2 linked regions of the Homo sapiens genome follow. Each later gene encodes a partner of the first gene's protein in a complex. Each region holds a gene or a part of one and is shown in the gene's direction. Other genes may lie near its edges.

The links.
Region 2: the proteins of CCKBR (region 1) and GAST are in contact, whole or in part, in a cryo-EM structure (PDB 7XOW), measured with the Homo sapiens proteins. Residues at the interface, in NP_795344.1 of Homo sapiens: Cys107, Pro114, Asn115, Gly118, Thr119, Phe120, Met134, Gly135, Val138, Tyr189, Gln204, Cys205, His207, Leu222, Val349, Tyr350, Ala352, Asn353, Arg356, Pro361, Ala363, His364, Leu367, Ser368, Ile372, His376, Tyr380; in NP_000796.1 of Homo sapiens: Glu85, Ala86, Tyr87, Gly88, Trp89, Met90, Asp91, Phe92.

Annotation. Positions count from the first base shown.
Region 1 is NC_000011.10:6,260,582-6,270,788, forward strand, and holds part of CCKBR (gastrin/cholecystokinin type B receptor), read left to right. Parts: intron 1-9,087; coding exon 9,088-9,339; intron 9,340-9,506; coding exon 9,507-9,756; intron 9,757-10,064; coding exon 10,065-10,207. UniProt on the Homo sapiens protein: Receptor for gastrin and cholecystokinin. The CCK-B receptors occur throughout the central nervous system where they modulate anxiety, analgesia, arousal, and neuroleptic activity.
Region 2 is NC_000017.11:41,705,043-41,715,561, forward strand, and holds the start of GAST (gastrin preproprotein), read left to right. Parts: upstream 1-7,288; 5' UTR 7,289-7,345; intron 7,346-10,389; 5' UTR 10,390-10,394; coding exon 10,395-10,519. UniProt on the Homo sapiens protein: Gastrin stimulates the stomach mucosa to produce and secrete hydrochloric acid and the pancreas to secrete its digestive enzymes. It also stimulates smooth muscle contraction and increases blood circulation and water secretion in the stomach and intestine.

The DNA of each region.
Region 1 (10,207 bases):
CAGCCATCCCAAAAAAGATCCTCAAATCTGAATTAGGCTGGACACTAGGGGATGCTCCTTAGAGCTGCCTGCCTCCATTTCACTCCTTCTCAAACCCCTCTGCCTCCCTAGTTGGAGCTTTCGAGGCTCTGTGCCCTCTCTCTTTGTCTGCAAGTAATGTCTCCAGCTATCTTCCAAGCTCTCTCTCCAGCCCTAGGCTAGGTGCTGGGGGCACAGGGCAAACTAGACCCAGTCTGGACCCTCATGGCCCATAGCCAAGTGCAGAGAGAAACCAAGCAAATGGAAAAATCACAGACACAATGGAAGTCCCATGAAAGGGTCTAAACTGTGGGCACCAAAAGAACTTCACAGAGGCTAGAACCTTAGAGCTGGGTCTTGAAGTTGAGTAGGCAGAAAAGGAAGGAGTGGGATTCTAGGTGAAGGAGCAATGTTAAGCAGAAGGAAATTTTTCTAAACTCAAAAAGGGAAAGTTGGAATAAATTGTAATCCAAGTATTTATTTACCCCACGAAATAATCTATGCTTTCTCAGCCGAGTTGTTACACACTCACACTTGGATTCTGTCATTCAGCCAATATTTATTGAACCAGAGATTGTGCTAGGCAGTGGGAATGTAAGTTGAACAAAACCGACACAATTCCTACTTCACAGAGCTCAAAGTTTAATGGGCGAGACAGAAAAGCAGGGGATTGCAGCACAAAGTGGAAGAGCCTTGACAGGGAAAAGATAGTGGGAACACAAGTGGAACACCTCTAGCCCAGCCCAGCCTCCTTGAGAATTAAAGTTGGCCTCTTGAGGAAATGAGCTACAAAGTCAAAAAAATTAGGGAGGCTGGCTCTAAGCTTCCTGTTGGCAAAAAAAAAAAAAAAAAAAAATATATATACACACACACACACACACACACACACACACACACACATATACATATGGGAGAGCCAGCCAAGTGAACGGGCAGAAGAGGCAGAAAGCATCCCAAATAAAAGGACAAGATGTATAAGAAGCTCAAAGTTTGAATTCATGGCACTTTTATCCACTGTGACATAGTTTTGAGTGACTAGAACATATATCTTAAGAAGGGAATAATGAACAGGCTGGAGACCAGCCTAGAGGGTTTGCAGAGAGCCTGCTAGGCCTGACCATGGAACATGGACTTTCTCCCGAGGGCAATAGGAACTACTAAAAGATTCGGTAGTACTACCAGGATTAGTTCTATAATGTGGAGAACGGATTGGAAGACATAAGATGGAAGGCAGGGGGATACTTTACAAGGTTACTATATTACACTGTTCTGGGTGAAAGATGATGCTAGCTGAGACTAAGGTAATGGCAAGGGAGATGGAGAGAGGTGGATAGATTTGAGAGCCTCTTCTGGAAATGGAATCAACAGATTAGAAGCAGAGAGGATGGAAGAGGTCAAGGGATGACATTCAGATTTCTAACTTGGACAACTGAATGGATATTGGTGCTATAGCAATTGTATACAATGAGAAAGATAACAAAACAGCAGAAACAGGTTTGGAAGAGGGAATTATAAATTCAGTTTGGAACCCATTGAGTTTAAATGTTAGTGGGGCATCCAGGTGAGGTTACCTAGTAAGCTGTTGAATCCAGGGGTCTGGAACTTACAGGAGAGGTCTGAGGTGGAAATACAGACTTGAAGAAGGTCTTTGCCTACAGGATGTAGAAGCCCCGAGAATAGTTAAAATCATAAAATTTTGTATAGAATGAGAAGAAAATAGGTCCTAGGTCAAGACTCTGCATAAGACCATTATTTAAAAGCCAGGCAGAGAAAGGAGAATTTATGAAGGAGATTCAGATGAAACCATCAGAAAGGCAGGAGCTACGCCCTTCCAGAAAGCAAGAAAAAGAGAGTTTCAAGCAGGTTGGGGTAAGTGATATCAAATGCTATTGACATAAGTTACATAAATAAAAAACAGGACAGTCAGAACAGCATCCTTCACATTCAATAACAAGAAAATATTTAGGAGTTGTAGGTATTGAGGCTTGACTATGGTAGGTTAAAGATTGGACTGGTGAGAGAAGGAGTTATGAGAAGTGAACCAAGGTATGTAGCCAAAACTTTCAAGAAGTCTGGTAGGCAAAGAAAGAGAGAGAGAGAGAGAGAGAGAGAGAGAGAGAGAGAGAAAGAAAAGCAGGATATTGCCAAAAATAGCATGAGATTGAGGAAGGGGGGAGTGGGTATGTGCATAGGTTTGTTACGTGTGTGCGCGTGTGTGTGCACGCATTTTAAAACAAGAGCTTTTTAAAATGTTTGTTGGTGATTGGGCCGAGAGAGGAAGATTGAAGGTGCAGATAAGAAAGGGGATAGTCAATAGAGAAGATTCCCTGTGAAAGCGGGATGTGACGCAATTCAGAGCACAGGTGCAAAAATTTGCCTCACTTATCTAAATGCTCCTCACACATTTGGATGTTACCCAGCCAGTCAGATGTTACACACAGAGACCCTGTCAGCCACACTCATTCAGATATTATCCCTGCAGATGCATAGGTTACCCAGGTTCACTCCAATGTTACCAATAGGAATTTGGATGTTACCACTTTATTCTCCTTATATAATCCATGCAGACTTGAGTATTACCCATGTTCACTCAGATAGTACCCACAGAAAGACAAATGTTACCACACTCACTTTAATATTGTCCGAAGTCATTTTGGTGTTACCCATCCATCAAACACTACTCACTTTCATTTTATTATTATCCACACACAACCAGATATTACCTATGCTCACTTAAGTAAGCTTTTCCCAGATACTACCCATAAAATTACAAATATTACTCTCACATACTCAGATAATACCCACAAAAGCTTAAATATTACTTACATTCACTCAGGTGCTCAGTTATTTCATTTACTCAGATTAACATCTTTTTTTTTTTTTTTTTTTTGAGGCAGTCTCCCTCTGTTGCCCAGGCTGGGGTGCAGTAGCATGATCATGGCTCATTGCAGTCTTGACCTCCGCAGGCTCAAGTGATCCTCCCACCTCAACCCCCTAAATAGCTGGGACTACAGGCATGTGCCACCACAAGTGGCTAATTTTTTGTATTTTTTGTAGAGATAGGGTTTTTCCATGTTGCCCAGGCTGGTCTCTAAATCCTTGGCTTAAGAGATCTGCCCACCTCAGCCTTCCAAAGTGCTGGGATTACAGATATAAGCCACCATGTCTGGCCCAGATTAACATCTTAATTTAGTTAACATGTTAACATCTAACATCTGTACTCAAATACTACCCATACATACTTGGATATTACTTCTGCTCAGTCAGCAATTTCTATCATTATTTGGATATTCCACTACTCACAAGTAGACCTCTGAATGTAATCTATGCTTCCTGAAGATGTTACCTACAAAATGTTATCTACAGAGAGTTGGATATTAACCCTTGCTCTTTCAAATGTTACTACAGTGACTCAGATATTATCTAAACTTAAATGTAAGCCATATTCAATCGGATATTACCTATAAGCATGTAGATGTTACCATTCTCCAGATATGTCCCACAGAAATAAGCGTGACTTTCACCTACCCATATACTATTTCAAAGATTAAAGTATGCCCAACACTCACTCTGATATTACCTACACACCCTTGCATATTACTTCTGCTCCCTCAGTACCCACTATGTGGATTCCCCCATTCACCCAGCCACTACCCACAGTCAGTTGGATGTGATCCCTGCTTATCATAGAGACAAGGGTATTACTTTGATGTCTGTGTGCATGGGTGAACAGATCAAACCTGCCAGTAGAATGCAGAATTTAAGGCATCAGCAGCTTCAGTGTTCTGTGGAGTTTTTCCTTAGAAAGTCTTGGTTTTCATTTTATGTCACGTTGTCTGGATTTTTGCACTCATACTTCTCTGCCATTATCTAGACAGAACAAATACAGATCTTCTAAACACCAGGAGAAGAACTGAACTGTCCCAATCTTCTGAGTCGCCTGGTCTGATGCCAGTTTTCCTCATCCCCAGGAAGATGATGAGATGATGCTCACGGGTAGACTTATCAAGGCACTTGTGGATGTACCCCAGCAGGTGCTATCTCCCATCCTTCTACCCATGCCTGTTTCCTAGTCACTGAAGCCACTGTCATCACTCATATTCCACCATGCAAACACACATCAATACACACACACACACACACACGCATACAAGTCTAAGTCTGATTTATTTTGTGCATGACTTTTTAAACTAATGGATTATTTTTAGAGCAGTTTTAAGTTTACAAAAATTACAGAGTGCCCATACACACACAACCACACATATACACAGAATTTACCCTATTATTAACAGCTTACATTAGTGTGGTACATGTGTCACAATTTATGAGCCAATATCAATACATTATTCTCTAAATTCTAGAGTTTACATTAGGGTTCACTTTTTGTGTTGTATGGTTCTATAGGTTTTGACAAATGTATAATGGCATGTATCCATCATTACAGTATCACACAGAATAGTTTCACTGCCCTAAAAATCCCCTGTACTTCATCTATTTATCCCTCGCTCTGCCTCTCCAAACTCCTGGCTCTAAAATTGCTTTTAATTAGAATTTTTCACATTTCTGAACTGTTCAACAGCAAAGACGTGTGGAGACAGTGGTGGCTGGAAATAAGATAATAGCTAGGAATGTCCAGTAAAACAGCAGAACACTGCACAGTTGCTGGTCATTTTTACTGGGACTTTGTCTTATAAATTTCAGGAGTCCCCAAGCATATTGCAAACTTTATAAGGGTAATATTTAGCTCCATCTTTATGGTCTATCACAATTAGCCAAGTTCAAGGGCACACACATGGGACATCAGCTGGATGAATGAATGAGAAATTGCTTTTCATGCTTCACAGTACTGTACCAATTTGAGGTGTGGCGAATTGCATCAATAATTAGTTGAAGAAAGACATCCAGGGCAGATGTAAGCAAGATAATGGAACTAGAAAGATTAAAGAGGTGGAGGCTGGGGGTGGGAGGACAATGGATTTGGAGAAGAAACAGTGAGTCCAAGATAAACCACCAGCTCTTTTCTGAGTCCAAGGACCTCTCTGACAGAGGTCTCCCTCCTAAAAGTCCTTTATTCTCCACCATACACACTTACTCCCCTCAAATTTTGTCACCTATAAGCCTTCTGTAATCCTTCCTTACAGAGAGAGGCCCAGCTTCTAAAGGAAATATAGATGGTTTGCATATAAAAAACAAAAGTTATGCATCTGAAATCATAACCTCTCACTGACCCCCACAAGGACCTTCCAACATGTGTCTCCAAAAAGACAGAGGCAAAGAAGAAGAAGAAAGGGCATGCTGGAGCACCTCTGCAGAGATGACGGATGGATGAGGAGGGGGAAAGCAGGTGCACTTCTGTCTTGAAAGACAGAATCATCCAAGATTCATTAACAAGCATGTGTTGACTGCCTCCCCTGTGCTAGGGATGATGAGTGCTAGGGATATACTGGAGAGCGAGATGGACCTTGCCACTGTCCTCAAGAAGCTCCTAGTCTAGTGGGGAAGACAGAGAATTACATACATACTAATACAGTGAAAAATGCCATGGTTGAGTATAGAGAGAGGGAGAAAGAGGCATTTAGATTGAGATTTGATTAAGAAGGAGGCAGTATGGGCCAGGCGTAGTGGCTCAAACCTGTAATCCCAGCACTTTGGGAGGCCAAAGCAGGTGATCACCTGAGGTCGGGAGTTCGAGACCAGCCTTACCAATATGGAGAAACCCATCTCTACTAAAAATACAAAATTAGCCGGGCGTGGTGGTGCATGCCTGTAATTCTAGCTACTCAGGAGGCTGAGGCAGGAGAATCGCTTGAACCCAGGAGGCAAAGGTTGCGGTGAGCCAAGATCATGCCATTGCACTCCAGCCTGGGCAACAAGAGCAAAACTCCATCTCAAAAACAAAAACAAAAACAAACAAACAAACAAAAAACATGGAGGTAGTATGATGAATAACAGAGTACTGCAGGAACAAACAGTAGGAGGCAAAGCACATTAGGGATCAGGGACTTGGCTTCTATTCTGATTCAGCCCCTTATCAGGTGTGTGGTCTTGAGCAAAGAATGTTACTGCTGAGTTCGGTTTGGAAGTTTTTATAAATAGCATTTATTTGATGCCTACAATTTCTAAATAAATTGGTTTTTGTTATGAGAAAATACAGTCATGCATTAACTAATGATGGGGATACCTTCTGAGAAATGCATCATTAGGTGATTTCATTGTGTAAACATCATAGAGTGTTTGTCACACAAACCTAGAAGGTATAGCCTACTACATACCTAGGCTATACGGTATAGCCTACTGCTCCCAGGCTGCAAACCTGTACAGTATATTACTGTGCTGAATATTGTAGGGAAGAGTAACACAATGTTATGTATTTGTGTATCTAAACATAGAAAAGGTACAGTGAAAATACAGCATAAAAGATAAACCATCATACACCTGTATAGGGCACGTACCGTTAATGGAACTTGCAGGAGTAGATGTTGCTCTGGCTAAGTCAGTGATGAGTGGTGAGTGAAAGTAAAGGCCTAGGACATTACTGTACACTACTGTAGACTTTATAAACACTGGATACTTAGGCTACACTAAATGTATTTAATAATAAATTAAACTTAGCATACTGTAACTTTTTACTTTATAAACTTTTTGACTCTTTTGTAATAACACAGTGTAAAACAAAAAACACATTGTATGGCTATACAAAAATATTTTCTTTTTTTATACTCTTATCCTATAAGCATTTTTCTGTTTTTAACTTTAGAAAAAAAAAAAACCTTTCTGTTAAAACCAAGACACAAACACACACATTGGGCTACACAGGGTCAGGATAAATATTGCCATCTTCCACCTCTACATCTTGTCCCACTGGAAGGTCATCAGGGCAACACCACACATGGAGCTGTCATCTCCTATAATAACGGTGCTTTATTCTGGAATACATCTTAAAGGACCTGCCTGAGTCTGTTTTATAGTTAACTTTTTTAAAAAAATAAGTAAGAGTATACTCTAAAATAATGATTGAAAGTATAATGTAGTAAATACATCAACCAGTCACACAGTCATTTATTATCACTATCAAGTATTATGTACATCATTGTATGTGCTAGGCTTTTATATGACTGACAGCACAGTAGGTTTGTTTATACCAGTATCCCCACAAACACATACGTAATGCATTATGCTGCAATGTTACAATAACATTACTAGGTGATAGAAACTTTTCAGCTCCATTATAATCTTTTGTTGTTGTTATTTTGGGTTTTGTTTGAGACAGAGTCTCACTCTGTTGTGCAGGCTGGAGTGCAGTGGCACTATCATAGCTCATTGCAGCCTTGAACTCCTGGGTTCAAGCAATCTTTCTGCCTCAAACTCCTGAGTAGCTATGACTATAGGCACGTATCACCACACCCAGCTAATTTTTTATGTTTTGTAGAGACGGGACTTTGCTATGTTGCTCAGGCTGATCTCAAGCTCCTGGCCTCAGGTGATCCTCCCGCCTTGGCCTCTCAAAGTGCTGGGATTACAAAGATAAGCCACTGCACTCAGCTGTTCATTACAATCTTATGAGACCACCATCGTATATGAAATTGGTCATTTACCAAAACATCGTTATTCAGTGCATGGCTGTAGTTTTCAATTTGGGAGCTAAAATGAGAATCAGTCAAAGTATGGGGCTCTGGAAGAGGGGGCTGCAGCTTTGAGGCTTTCCTTCTCTGCAATCTAGGAGGCTCTGTCCCCTGCCCTCTCTACCTTCCAGCTCTAATCCCTCTCATGCTGAGGCCATAGGTGTGAGTAATTCAGTCCTGTTCAATCCAATTCGATTTTATCTAAATCTGCTTGGCTGTGATGTGGTGGTCCAAAGATTAATCCATCTTTTAATAGACAATGACACAAAAGAATGGGGTCAGCCTCCCAGCCCCTCTGCCTCACACAGGTGTCCCTCCTATGAGCTCCAACAGCACCTTATACATCCTTCAGCCTCACTCCTTATCACATCTGTTTATGTATCTGAGTTTACTTCCCCACTGTGAGCTCTCAAATGGCAGGGATCTTGTCATGTTCATCTCTTTGTCCCCAGTGCCTAGCACAAAGGGAGTCCTCTGTAAATGTTTATAGAGTGAGAATGAATGTTTGGAGAGAATTAAAATACAAGGCAGAAGTAAAATAGGCTGTAATAGTTGTGTAAGAAACAGGCATGGGTCAGAGAAAGAGGAGAGTAGAAGGGCCTTACAGAAGGGCCTTACAGAAGAAGTAGCAGTCAATTTGAGTCTTGACCAACAAGGGATGAATAGGAATTCACCAGATACAGAAAATAAGCTTGTGATGAGGGGTAGAAGTTGTGAGGAGGGTTGGTAAAAGAGTATTCCGGTCTGAGAAACCAGCTTGAGCAGGGAGAGAGTCACAAGTGCAAATGATGCATTCAAGAAATTGAGTCATCCAGTGGCTTGCTTAAATGCCTGCTGTACAGGGAGGGGGTGGGAGAGAAAGAAGTCCCTTCTGGGAGGATCTTGATGATATTCTGAGGGGTTGCAGACAGTAGAGAGTAAGTGAAGTATTTTTTTTTTTTTTTTTTTTGCTTTTGTTTTTAGAGAATAAAGACATGATCTGATGTGATTCAAAAGGTAGTGGGTTGTCAACAGTGTAGAATACTCTAGCGGGGTCAAATAGAGTAGGCTAAGAAAGGACCTTTGAATTTAGCAGTTAAAGATTAGTGTACTTGGGAAGAAGTATGCACTGATAGGGCACAGAATATTGTATTGTAATGGAATGAAGAGTAAATGAGAAGACACAAATATCCTCTTAAGAAGTTTGTCTGCAGAAAGAAGGAAAGATTTGGAACGAACCTTGAGAAGAGACAGGCTTTCTTAAGGAAGGGCAGAGTTGGGCCAATTTAACCAAACCTCAAGGGGTTAGAAGGCTAAAGGATTCAAGTTCACCATTTACTGAGCAGTTCATCGGTGGGGAATGTAGGCATCTGGCTGGGTAGTGAGGGTTGGGGATAAGACGGAAGGAGGGGGATTTGACTGAATGAAGGCTGACCCCCTACTGCCACCTCTCCCTTTTCTTACCCAGAATTGGAGCTGGCCATTAGAATCACTCTTTACGCAGTGATCTTCCTGATGAGCGTTGGAGGAAATATGCTCATCATCGTGGTCCTGGGACTGAGCCGCCGCCTGAGGACTGTCACCAATGCCTTCCTCCTCTCACTGGCAGTCAGCGACCTCCTGCTGGCTGTGGCTTGCATGCCCTTCACCCTCCTGCCCAATCTCATGGGCACATTCATCTTTGGCACCGTCATCTGCAAGGCGGTTTCCTACCTCATGGGTGGGTGAGACAACCACCCCACCCCCACTTGCCACTCTCCCCGCCTAAAGCTCTTGTGGATGTAGGGGTCTTCCCCGGTTGGCAGGGAGGGGTGTGAGGAAGTCCCACTGATGCTTGTGTAGTGCAAGTTTCCTAGGTGACTCCTTCCTTTCTCTTCCCTTGTTTAGGGGTGTCTGTGAGTGTGTCCACGCTAAGCCTCGTGGCCATCGCACTGGAGCGGTACAGCGCCATCTGCCGACCACTGCAGGCACGAGTGTGGCAGACGCGCTCCCACGCGGCTCGCGTGATTGTAGCCACGTGGCTGCTGTCCGGACTACTCATGGTGCCCTACCCCGTGTACACTGTCGTGCAACCAGTGGGGCCTCGTGTGCTGCAGTGCGTGCATCGCTGGCCCAGTGCGCGGGTCCGCCAGACCTGGTGAGCTTGCCCATAAACTATCCTAGGAATTCCTTTCTCACCCCTATTAGATGCTTACGACCATTGCCCAGAATCTTCCTCCAGCTTCCCGGAGAATTACCACGCCAACTCCTATTCTGCATCCACCACCCTGGAGTTCCAGTTTGGGGCCCCTCCCCAGTTCTCTCTCCCTTCCCAGCGGCACCCCCAAATCCTACTCCTACTTCAGGTACCTGGCCACAGCCCTAGAAACACTAGTCCTTGGCTTTTTCTCCATCTGTGATTACAGCTGGACAGAAACCCGAGTGATCTGTCTGTGTTGCCTTCAGGTCCGTACTGCTGCTTCTGCTCTTGTTCTTCATCCCGGGTGTGGTTATGGCCGTGGCCTACGGGCTTATCTCTCGCGAGCTCTACTTAGGGCTTCGCTTTGACGGCGACAGTGACAGCGACAGCCAAAGCAGGGTCCGAAACC
Region 2 (10,519 bases), on another chromosome or scaffold:
TTGCCACATGGCAGCATCTCTCTGGCTCGTGGACAGAAATGACCTCTGCCGTCTGCCAGGGATCATTTGGAATCAGGTGGGTTTATATATGCAGCAAAACTTCAGTAAAGCTTGAAGAAACGCACTGATCCTTCTACCTTCTCTGAAATAACGTTCTCAATAGCGAGGTCATAGGCATAACCAGCCATCCAAACCTCCCCCATGGCCCCTTGAGCCCACCATGTGTCACTCCAACCCACCCCACTCCTGGGCTCAATAGACAACAAAGAAAAGGGAAGAGAAAGAACAAAGACCCCCCTCGATCACCATTGTGTCCCCAGGGTCAGAACAGTGCCTGACACAAAGCAGGCACTTGGAAAATTTGTGTTGAGTAAACAGATGCATGGATGAATGAGTGAATGAAAGAGTGAAAGCACACGGTCTCTAAGCAGGCAGGAGGGTCTGGGATGATGGGCCCTGGTGGAGGGGCTGACACTGAATGGGGTGACAGAACCTCCAGCGATGGAGGAAAGGAGGAAAGGACGGAAGCGGGACTTAGGCAGCTGTGTTCACGGTGGGGAAAAGGGGGCTGACGTCAAATGACCTTGGGAATGAAAGAGAAATGATTCACCACAGTTGCCAGTAACAACCAAGCTGCAGAATATTAATTTGCAATTGAATCAACTGGTCACTTTCGGAAACTTCCTGTCGGTTTTTGCAGGGAGTGGCAGGAGCTGAGGAAGGGGTCGGGGTGGCCTGTCAGGGACCTGGGACCAGCCTGGCAGGTTCAGAAGCAGGACAGGGGCAGCAATCTATGTGCATCACACAGAACTGAGATGACAAACCCTGGGAGGGGTAGGCGGGCTGGGAGGAGCCAGACAGTGGAGGAGCTGGAGGTCACAGTGAAGACAGATTCAGCAGGAGCGAGGCTTCTGGAGAGGGTGGGATGGGAAGCTGTGGGCCGAGAAGAGGCAGCAGCACATGGAGTCCAAGACCCGGGGGTTCCCCAACTCAGCTCCCTCACCTCCTACCTGTTGGGCCGGGGATGAGCCATTCAGCCTGGAACACACCCGAATAAAGACTCCTCTCATCCTCTCACAGAGGGGCCTTTAGGATTATTTTTCCCAGTTAAAACCACTGTTAGGCCAGGCGTGGTGGCCCATGCCTATAAATCCCAGGGCTTTGGGAGGCCAGGAGGGAGGATCACTTGAGGCCAGGTGATCCAAATACAAAGCCTGGGCTGAGAACCACTGCTTCGAAGGCACAGGTGGGCATCAGAGGAGAAAAGGAGAGAGGAGGCTCAGGAGAGAAGCGGAAGCCAGAGTAAGGGTAGCCACTACTCTCTGTCCTTGACAGCCCAGCCTGGGCCCAGGGGTGGTGGGCAGCCTCTCCAGCCCAGTCTGCAAGCAGCTTGCAGGCTGCCCTCTTGGCCCTGCCATGTCACCACTCTCAGACAGCAGCTGAGGCCAGAACCCAAGAACCCACCTCCCCCTACCTAGCCCCCTACCCCAGGGGGGATCATGGATGCCCTCATTGATGCAAACACCTTCCAGGTGTCACTGTTTGTCCCCAGAACTACCACATCCTCCAAAGCCCTGGTTGCCTGGGCCAGAATGATTGAGTCGTCATCAAGCTCTTCCTTTTCTGCCATCAATAACCAATTAGGAAGCCAAGGCACTGCCTCCCTGACAACGGTTTGCAGCTCATCAATAGTGATCTGTTTCCCAAAGCCAGCCCTGGCAGGCAGGAGTGTGCCTGGGTCCACTGAGAAGCCTCTCCCTCCTCAGGGAACAGTCTCCTTCACAGGGGACCCTTGTTTTTCTGTTACTCTTTTTTTTTTTTTTTTTTTTTTTTTTTTTTTTTTTTTTTTGAGACAGAGTCTCACTCTGTCGCCAGGCTGGAGTGCAGTGGCACGATCCCAGCTCACTGCACCCTCTGCCTCCCAGGTTCAAGCAATTCTCCTGCCTCAGCCTCCCAAGTAGCTGGGACTACAGGCACACACCACCACGCCCGGCTTTTTTTTTTTTTTTGTATTTTAGTAGAGACAGGGTTTCACCATGTTGCCCAGGCTGGTCTTGAACTCCTGAGCTCAGGCAATCTGCCCACCTTGGCCTCCCAAAGTGCTAGGATTACAGGCGTGAGCCACCACACCCGGCCGTGTGTTACTCTTTTATGCCCCTAGAATCTAAACTCCACCAAAGCAATGAAAGGGTCTGTCCTGTCATAGTCACCTGTTTTTTTTTTTGAGACAAAGCTTCACTCTTGTTGCCCAGGCTGGCGTGCAATCGCACAATCTCAGCTCATTGCAACCTCTGCCTCCCATGTTCAAGCAATTCTTCCACCTCAGCCTCCCAAGTAGCCAGGATTACAGACGTGCACCACCATGCCCGGCTAATTTTGTATTTTTTAGTAGAGACAGAGTTTCATCATGTTGGTCAGGCTGGTCTTGAACTCCCAAACTTAAGTGATCCACCCACCTCAGCCTCCCAAAGTGCTGGGATTACAGGCGTGAGCCGCTGCACCCAGCGCTGTCATATTCACCTCTTATCCCCAAGTAGCCTCATCTGTACCCTAGCTCACAGCAGGTGCTCAGTAATTGGAATGAATTTGGAATATTCGGATGGTCAGAATAACTCAAAGAACAGCTCCCTTCTTTGTATTTGAAAATTTACATGGAAATTCATGCTGGGCCAGTTTTTACTAAACAGAAACCTTCACAAGGCTGTGATCCCTTGTATCCATTTTTGATTGCTACCATAATAAGTCACCACAATTTAGAAGCTTAAAACAACAGCAATTTATTCTCTCGCGGTTCTGTAGGTCAGAAGTCCTGGTACAGAGTGGCTCACGGGGTCCCCTGATTAGGATCTCCCAAGGCCACAATCAGGTCGGCAGGGCTGCATTTCTTTCTGGAGGCTCTAGGGATGAATCCACTTCCAAGCTCATCCAGGTTGTTGGCCAGATTTCATTCTTTGTAGTTGCGGGGCTGACATTCCTCTTTCCTGGCTGTCGGTGGAGAACCTCTCAGCTCCTCAAGGCCACTGCTTTCCTCGTCCTGTTGCCCTCCTGCCATCTTCAGACCAGCAATTGCTTGTGGAGTCCTCATAACTCCAGCTCTCCGACCTGACCTTCAGCCACATCTCTTCTGCCTCTAGCTGAAGAAAGTTAAGGGCTATGTGATTACACTGGGCCCAGTCAGATAATCCAGCATAAACTCCCTAATTTTTTTTTTCAGAGACAGGGGTCTCACTATGTTGCCCAGGCTGGTCTCAAACTCCTGGGCTTAAGTGATCCTCCTGCCTCAGCCTCCAGAGTAGCTGGGACTACAGGCATGCACCACTGCACTTGGCATAAGCTCTCTATTTTAAAGCCAGTAACCTTAATCACACCTGCAACGTCTCTTTTGTTATGTAATCACATATTCACAGGTTCCAAGGATTGGGGCAGGAACATCTTTGGGGACATGATTGTTCTGCCTGCCACATTCCTACTGGGAGGATAGAGACCTGAGTTTCAGACCCACCTCTCCTTTTTGGTGTGTGGACTCAGGATGGGGATTACTTCACCTGTCTAAGCCTTAGTTTCTACTTCTTTTTTTTTTTTTTTTTTTTTTTTGAGACAGCGTCTCACTCTGTCTCCCAAGTACAGTGGCACAATCATGGCTCACTGCAACCTCACCTCCCCGGCTCAAGCAATCCTCCCACCTCAGCCTCCCAAATAGCTGGGACCACAGCCACGCACCACCACACCCAGCTAATTTTTGTATTTTTTGTAGAGATGGGGTTTTGCCATGTTGCCCAGGCTGGTCTTCAACTGTTGGGCTCAAGTAATCTGCCGGCCTCGGCCTCCCCAGGTGCTGGGATTACAGGCGTAAGCCCCCGTACCCATCAGTTTCTTCTGAAGAAGGGGTTCACACTAGCACTTAGGTCCTAGGATCATGGTGAAGAGTGATTGCATTCATTCATGCTAAGAGCTTATCAGTTCCTGGTACACGGCATTGTTATCGTTGTGATGACAGGGGCAGGGCCCACACACCTGCACCCTCGAGGGGGACGGAGATGGGTCCCAAGGTCTGGGATCTGGTCTTCAATTTGGTAGGCCCAGAAATTGAATTTTCTGCTCACCCAGCTAGTCGGTGTTAGAGCCATGATTCAAACCCTGGCCTCACCAGTTCCAAAACCCCCTGTACACCAGGAGGTCCAGCTTCCATAGACTCTATCCCTGCTGCCTCTTTCAGTGGCAGTTGGGCTGAGGTCCCTCTGAGTCACAGCTGGCAGGAGGGAAACCCTTGGATTCACAGAGTGATATGCTTAGGGAATTACCCTCCTTTAAGCCTTGGGGAAGGAGAACTCCCCCAAGTGTATAAAGCGTGTGCACAGACCTTGTCACCTCTTCCCTTCACTGCAGCCCTATGAGGTACAAATGAATGATTCCTATTTCCAAATGTGGTTAATTGAGACCCAGAGAGGATGGGGGAGAAGACGCAAAATGGATTAAATACCTGCGATATTCTCTTTTGTTTGTCTGTTTGTTTGAGACAGTCTCACTGTGTCACCCAGGCTGGAGTGCAATGGCACAATCTTGGCTCACTCCAACCTCCACTTCCTGGGTTCAAGCAATTCTCGTGCCTCAGCCTCCCAAGTAGCTGGGATTACAGGCATGTGCCACCACGCCCAGCTAATTTTTGTATTTTTAGTAGAAACGGGGTTTCACCATGTTGTTCAGGCTGGTCTCGAACTCCTGACCTCAGGTGATCTGCTTGCCTTGGCCTCCCAAAGTGCTGGGATCACAGGCATGAGCCACCGCACCCGGCCAAATATCTGCAATGTTTTGAGCACCGTGCAGGGCGCTTTATGTACATCACCTTCACGAGACCCTCCTCCCCAAGTTACTTTCCTCATTTCCTAGAGGAGAAAACAGCTCAGAGAAGGAGAGAAATATGCTCAAAGCTCAACAGCTGGAAAAAGACAGGACCAGGAAACCCTTCCTTTTCCATCAGACGAGGTCCCCTCATGAGGAGAACGTGCAGTCCGTGACTGGGGAGCTCCTCAGGGTCAAGGATGCTCATCTCTGAATGCAACCCTTCCCCTGCAGACCTGGCAGGGTCTGCAAATAGTGACATTCTTTTTTTTTTTTTTTTTTTTTTTTTGAGACAGAGTCTCGCTCTGTCACCAGGCTGGAGTGCAATGGCATGATCTCAGCTCACTGCAACCTCTCTGTGCCTCCCAGGTTCAAGCGATTCTCCTGCCTCAGTCTCCCGAGTAGCTGGGATTACAGGCGCCCGCCACCATGCCCAGCTAATTTTTGTATTTTTAGTAGAGTCAAGGTTTCACCATGTTGGCCAGGATGGTCTCGATCTCTTGACTTCGTGATCCACCTGCCTCAGCCTCCCAAAGTGCTGGGATTACAGGAGTGAGCCACCAAGCCTGGCCAAATAGTGACATTCTAACCATTGCCTATGGAATAGGAGACATGCTTCTATTTGTTGAAATTGTCATCCCTCATGTAACCAGCCTGGGGAAGAACATTCAAGGGGGCATAACCCCCTCCATGGGCACAAACTGAGTCTTGGGCTCTGGTACAACCAGGGTTCTACTGAAAACTTATCATTTCCCATTAGTGTTACCATAGCAACACGAATGTCTTCATTCATTCCCCTAGTGTATGAACAGAGCTACACTCACCCCACCTGTTCTCCCAAGCCCCCTCAAAGTCCTTTCATCTCTGAGATTCTGTGATTCAATTAATTATCACCAATGCCTGCACTGCTTTTTGTCGTTTTCATTTATTCCATCTGCTGAGTCACCGTGTCCTGCTCTAGATGAGAGTGGTTATTCACAACGGTTATTCAGCCGTCAGTTGCCATGGACACCGCACAGCCTGCTTCCTTCATCACCCATTAATTCTCAGCAAGGCTGGCTGTAAGCATGGGTACCACTGCAGTTACCCAATACCCAAGGGGATCAAACTCTCCCAGAAAAGGTGGGGGCCCAATGACGCATGAACAGGAGCAAAATCTCTGCTCTCAACAGTGGAAAAGTAAAAAACAGCCTACGGCTCATTACATCTGGTCAAACCATGTGGAGGCAGCAGTTTATCAAATAAGTCAACAAGGTACCATTTTGTTTTCTGGTCCATCTTTGGCAAATGCTTTAGTCTGTTTGCTAACCATTTGAAGGTATATTTTGATACTGAAAAGTTGTTGGCTGGGCATGGTGGCTCACGTCTGTAATCCCAGAACTTTGGCAGACTAAGCTGGGCCGATCATGAGGTCAGGAGTTCGAGACCAGCCCGCCCAACACGATGAAACCCCATCTCTACTAAAAATACAAAAAATTAGCCAGGCGTGGGGGCGTGCGCCTGTAATCCCAGCTACTAGGGAGGTTGAGGCAGAAGAATCGCTTGAACCCAGGAGGCGGAGGTTCCAGTGAGCCGAGATCACACCACTGCACTCCTGCACTCCAGCCTGGTGACAGAACTAGACTTTGTCTCAAAAAAAAAAAAAAGTTGTTATGCAGATTACTAGCTCCCCTTGAAAGCAAAATGAAGGAGGCTTCAAAGGCAGGACCCTCCAGGAATTGGTTCTGCATAGGGGGTTTGCAAGTGGTGGTGCATGGGCAGCTGACCTAGAAGACACGGGGCAGCTACAAGCCAAACCCAGCCCAGCACAGAGGGCCTAAGGAGAAGAAGGCACCAAGGGTGTTCCATGGTAGGGGGAGGGTGAAAGGACTTCAGAGGTGACCAGGATGTGAGCCACTAGAAGGAGAGAACAGGGCCATCAGCCCACAACCCATTGCTCCTGGTAACACGTTATGTTTGCAGAGTCCAGTGGAGGGGACGGGGAATCAATACATCACCCCACATTCACACGCTTGCCAAACATCAGTGGATGGCGAAATCCACTTTCCCTGAATCTAAGCCCATCGGGTTCACTCCCTCACCTACCACCACCCACAAAGGTCCCTATGTAGTTCGAGAGATAAGTGCCAGGCCTCTGACCCCCAGGATATGGTGGGAAGCATTGCTCCTGACCCAGGGAGCTTGGTTCCTGCCCCTCAGGTACAGCTGGAGAGCTGCCGCCACCCCGCTCCAGCCCCTCACCATGAAGGTCAACTCCCCTATCCTTCCCCCACATCCTGGATGACTGACTGACACTAAATGAAAGGGCGGGGCAGGGTGATGGGCTGTACCTGTGCCCCACCCCATTCCTCTCGCCTGGACTCATATGGCAGGGTAGGGGCGGGGTGGGGGGACAGTTGGGAGGGACCTTGAGGGCTTTATAAGGCAGGCCTGGAGCATCAAGCAGAGCAGAGACCTGAGAGGCACCAGGCCCAGCCGTGGCACCACACACCTCCCAGCTCTGCAGGTGAGAAAACCCAGGAGGAGAGGGGAGAGGCTAGGAAGTGGGTTGACAGGTCCTCTCCCCCATCAAGGTACCAGGCCACTGGCCAGAGTCTGGGGCTCACCCCTTGGGGTCTCCAGAGCTGGGACCCTTTCTTTATCCCAGGATGGAACTAGGTCTTGGCTCCAGTACCTACCCTGGTATTCCCAACCTTGCCTTCCACCTGCCCTTCTGCCGCAGCCGGGGCCCTGCCCTTAGCCTATCCCTTCACACTCTTCCCAGCCCTGGGAGGTGAGGAGGACTGGGGTTCTTCTCCTTTCTCTCAGACAAGAAAACTGAGGCCCAGAGGCAAGATGTGACTTGCCCAAAGTCACAGGGATTATTAGGCAAGGCTGGGATAGGAATCCACAGCTCCTGGATCCCACTTCAAGCCCTTTCCTAGACCAGTGCCATCCAAAAGAACGTCCTATGATGCAGGAAATGGTCTTCATCTGCACTGTTCAATATGGTAGCCACTAGCCACGTGTGCGCTTGAAATGGGGTTAGTGTAAGGAAGTTTTTGTTGTTGTTGTTGTTTGTTTTTTTATATAGAGTCTCGCCGTGTCACCCAGGCTGGAGTGCAGTGACATGCAACCTCTGCCTCCCAGGTTCAAGCAATTCTCCTGACTCAGCCTCCCGAGTAGCCGGGATTACAGGCGCCTGCCACAACACCCAGCTAATTTTTCATATTTTTGGTAGAGACAGAGTTTCACCATGTTGGCCAGGCTGGTCACAAACTCCTGACCTCAAGTGATCCAACCCCCTCAGCCTCCCAAAGTGCTGGGATTACAGGCGTGAGCCACTGCACCTGACCATAATTTTTTAATTTAATTAATTTAAATGTAAAGAGCCACATGTGGCTGGTGGCTATAGCACTGAACAACACATGTGGTTAGCATCTGACAATACAGCTCCAGATCACTGATTTTTCAAACATTTCTTCAGCAGCAGAATTCTTTTCTTCCAAAGAAAACCTAACAGAAAACCTGATTATGAAAAACTTAATGGCCAGGCACCGTGGCTCATGCCTGTGATCACAACACTTTGGGAGGCTGAAGCAAGCAGATTGCTTGAGCTCAGGAGTTCCAGACCAGCCTGGGCAACATAGTGAGACCTCATCTCTACTAAAAATAAAAACAAAAAAATTAGCTGGGCATAGTAGTGCACACTTGTAGTCCCAACTACTCAGGAGGCTGAGGTGGGAGGATCTCTTGAGCCCAAGAGGTCGAGGCTGCAGCGAGTCAGGATCACGCCAGCCACTGCATTCCAGCCTGGGAGACAGAGCAAGATTCTGTCTCACAAAAAGAAAAGAAAAAAAGAAAAACTTAAAAGCAGTACAGTATTTTATTAATACAAATGTATTCTGACAAGAGAAAATTTTTATCATTTTCTTATGATAAAGCCAATCAGAATAGTGAGACCAAAAGCATACAAAAATAGTGAGTCCAGGGAATAGATGAGCATTTGAATTTTATGTTTGTTTGAGATTCCAGTTTAGTTCTGTATTATGTTTTCCCCAAACTTGATTCACCCTGATACATAATTGCTAATGGTGACAGCTTAATTTTTTCTTAACTGCTTCATTATAATCACAGGATATTCCTCAGTTAAGCAAAAATGACAGGAGAACCTTTCCTCTCAGGGCTGCACAAAAATCAGTGTGAGCTGGCCAAGCATTGAATGTGCTGCAGTCTCCAAAGTGATAACATGCGGTCTGTAACACAGCTGGATGTCCATGTTCCTTTGGTATTACTATTTAAAAGTTTCACTTTTTGTTTTTGTTTTTTTGAGACAGGGTCTCACTCTGTCGCCCAGGCTGGAGAGCAGTGGTGCAATCTCGGCTCACTGCAACCTCCACCTCCCCGGTTCAAGCGATCCTCCCACCTCGGCCTCCCAAGTAGCTGGGAATACAGGTGCATGCCACCATGCCTGGCTAATTTTTGTATTTTTTGTAGAGATGGGGTTTCAGTATGTTGCCCAGGCTGGTCTCAAACTTGTGGGCTCAAGGGATCCATCCTCCTCAGCCTCCCAAAGTGCTGGGATTACCATGCCTGGCCTAAAAAGTTCACTTTAAATAACAAGTCTTGGGCTGAGCACAGTGGCTCACATCTGTAATCGCAGCACTTTGGGAGGCTGAGGCGGGAGGATTGCTTGAGCCCAAGAGTTCAAGACTAGCTTGGGCAACATGGTGAAACCCTGTTTCTACAAAAAATACAAAAAAAATTAGCTGGACGTGGTGGTGCAAGCCTGTAGTCCCAGCTCTTCTGGAGGCTGAGGTGGGAGGATCACCTGAGCCCAGGAGGTAGAGGCTGCAGTGAGCAGTGATTGCACTACTGCACTGCAGCCTGGGCGACAGAGTGAGACCCTGTCTCAATAAATAAATAAATTACATTACTTAAACAGCTACAGAACCACTAACATGGCCTCAAATTCTGCAGAACAGAACCTAGGGAAACCATTGCCCTAGGATTTGACTTTCTCCAATAGAAGCAGTGGCTGTAATCGGGGTAGGTAAAGAGAAAAAACACAAGACTTCGGGGCTGGTGTGGAACTGGCAGAAACTGGAGAACTGATCTGAAGAAATAGTCCACAACTCCACACAGAATTGCAGACTCACCCGGGTGCGGTGGCTCATGCCTGTAATCCCAGCATTTGGGAGGCCGAGGCGGGTGGATCACCTGAGGTCAGGAGTTCGAGACCAGCCTGGCCAACATGGTGAAACCCCATCTCTACTAAAAATTACAAAAATTAGCCAGGCATGGTGGCACGTGCCTATAGTCACAGATATTCTGGAGGCTGAGGCAGGAGAATCACTTGAACCCGGGAGGCGGAGGTTATAGTGAGCCGAGATCCCACCACTGCACTCCAGCCTGGGCAACAAGAGTGAAACTCTGTCTAAAAAAAAAAAAAAGAAAGAATTGCACACTCATCAGCAGGTAGAGGCCTGGAGCCACATGGTTCAGTCCCCTGCCTCTGGGCCTCTGTGGGGACAGCCTCACCCTTAAGCTAGTCCCTTCTCCCCTTTGCAGACGAGATGCAGCGACTGTGTGTGTATGTGCTGATCTTTGCACTGGCTCTGGCCGCCTTCTCTGAAGCTTCTTGGAAGCCCCGCTCCCAGCAGCCAGATGCACCCTTAGGTACAGGGGCCAACAGGGACCT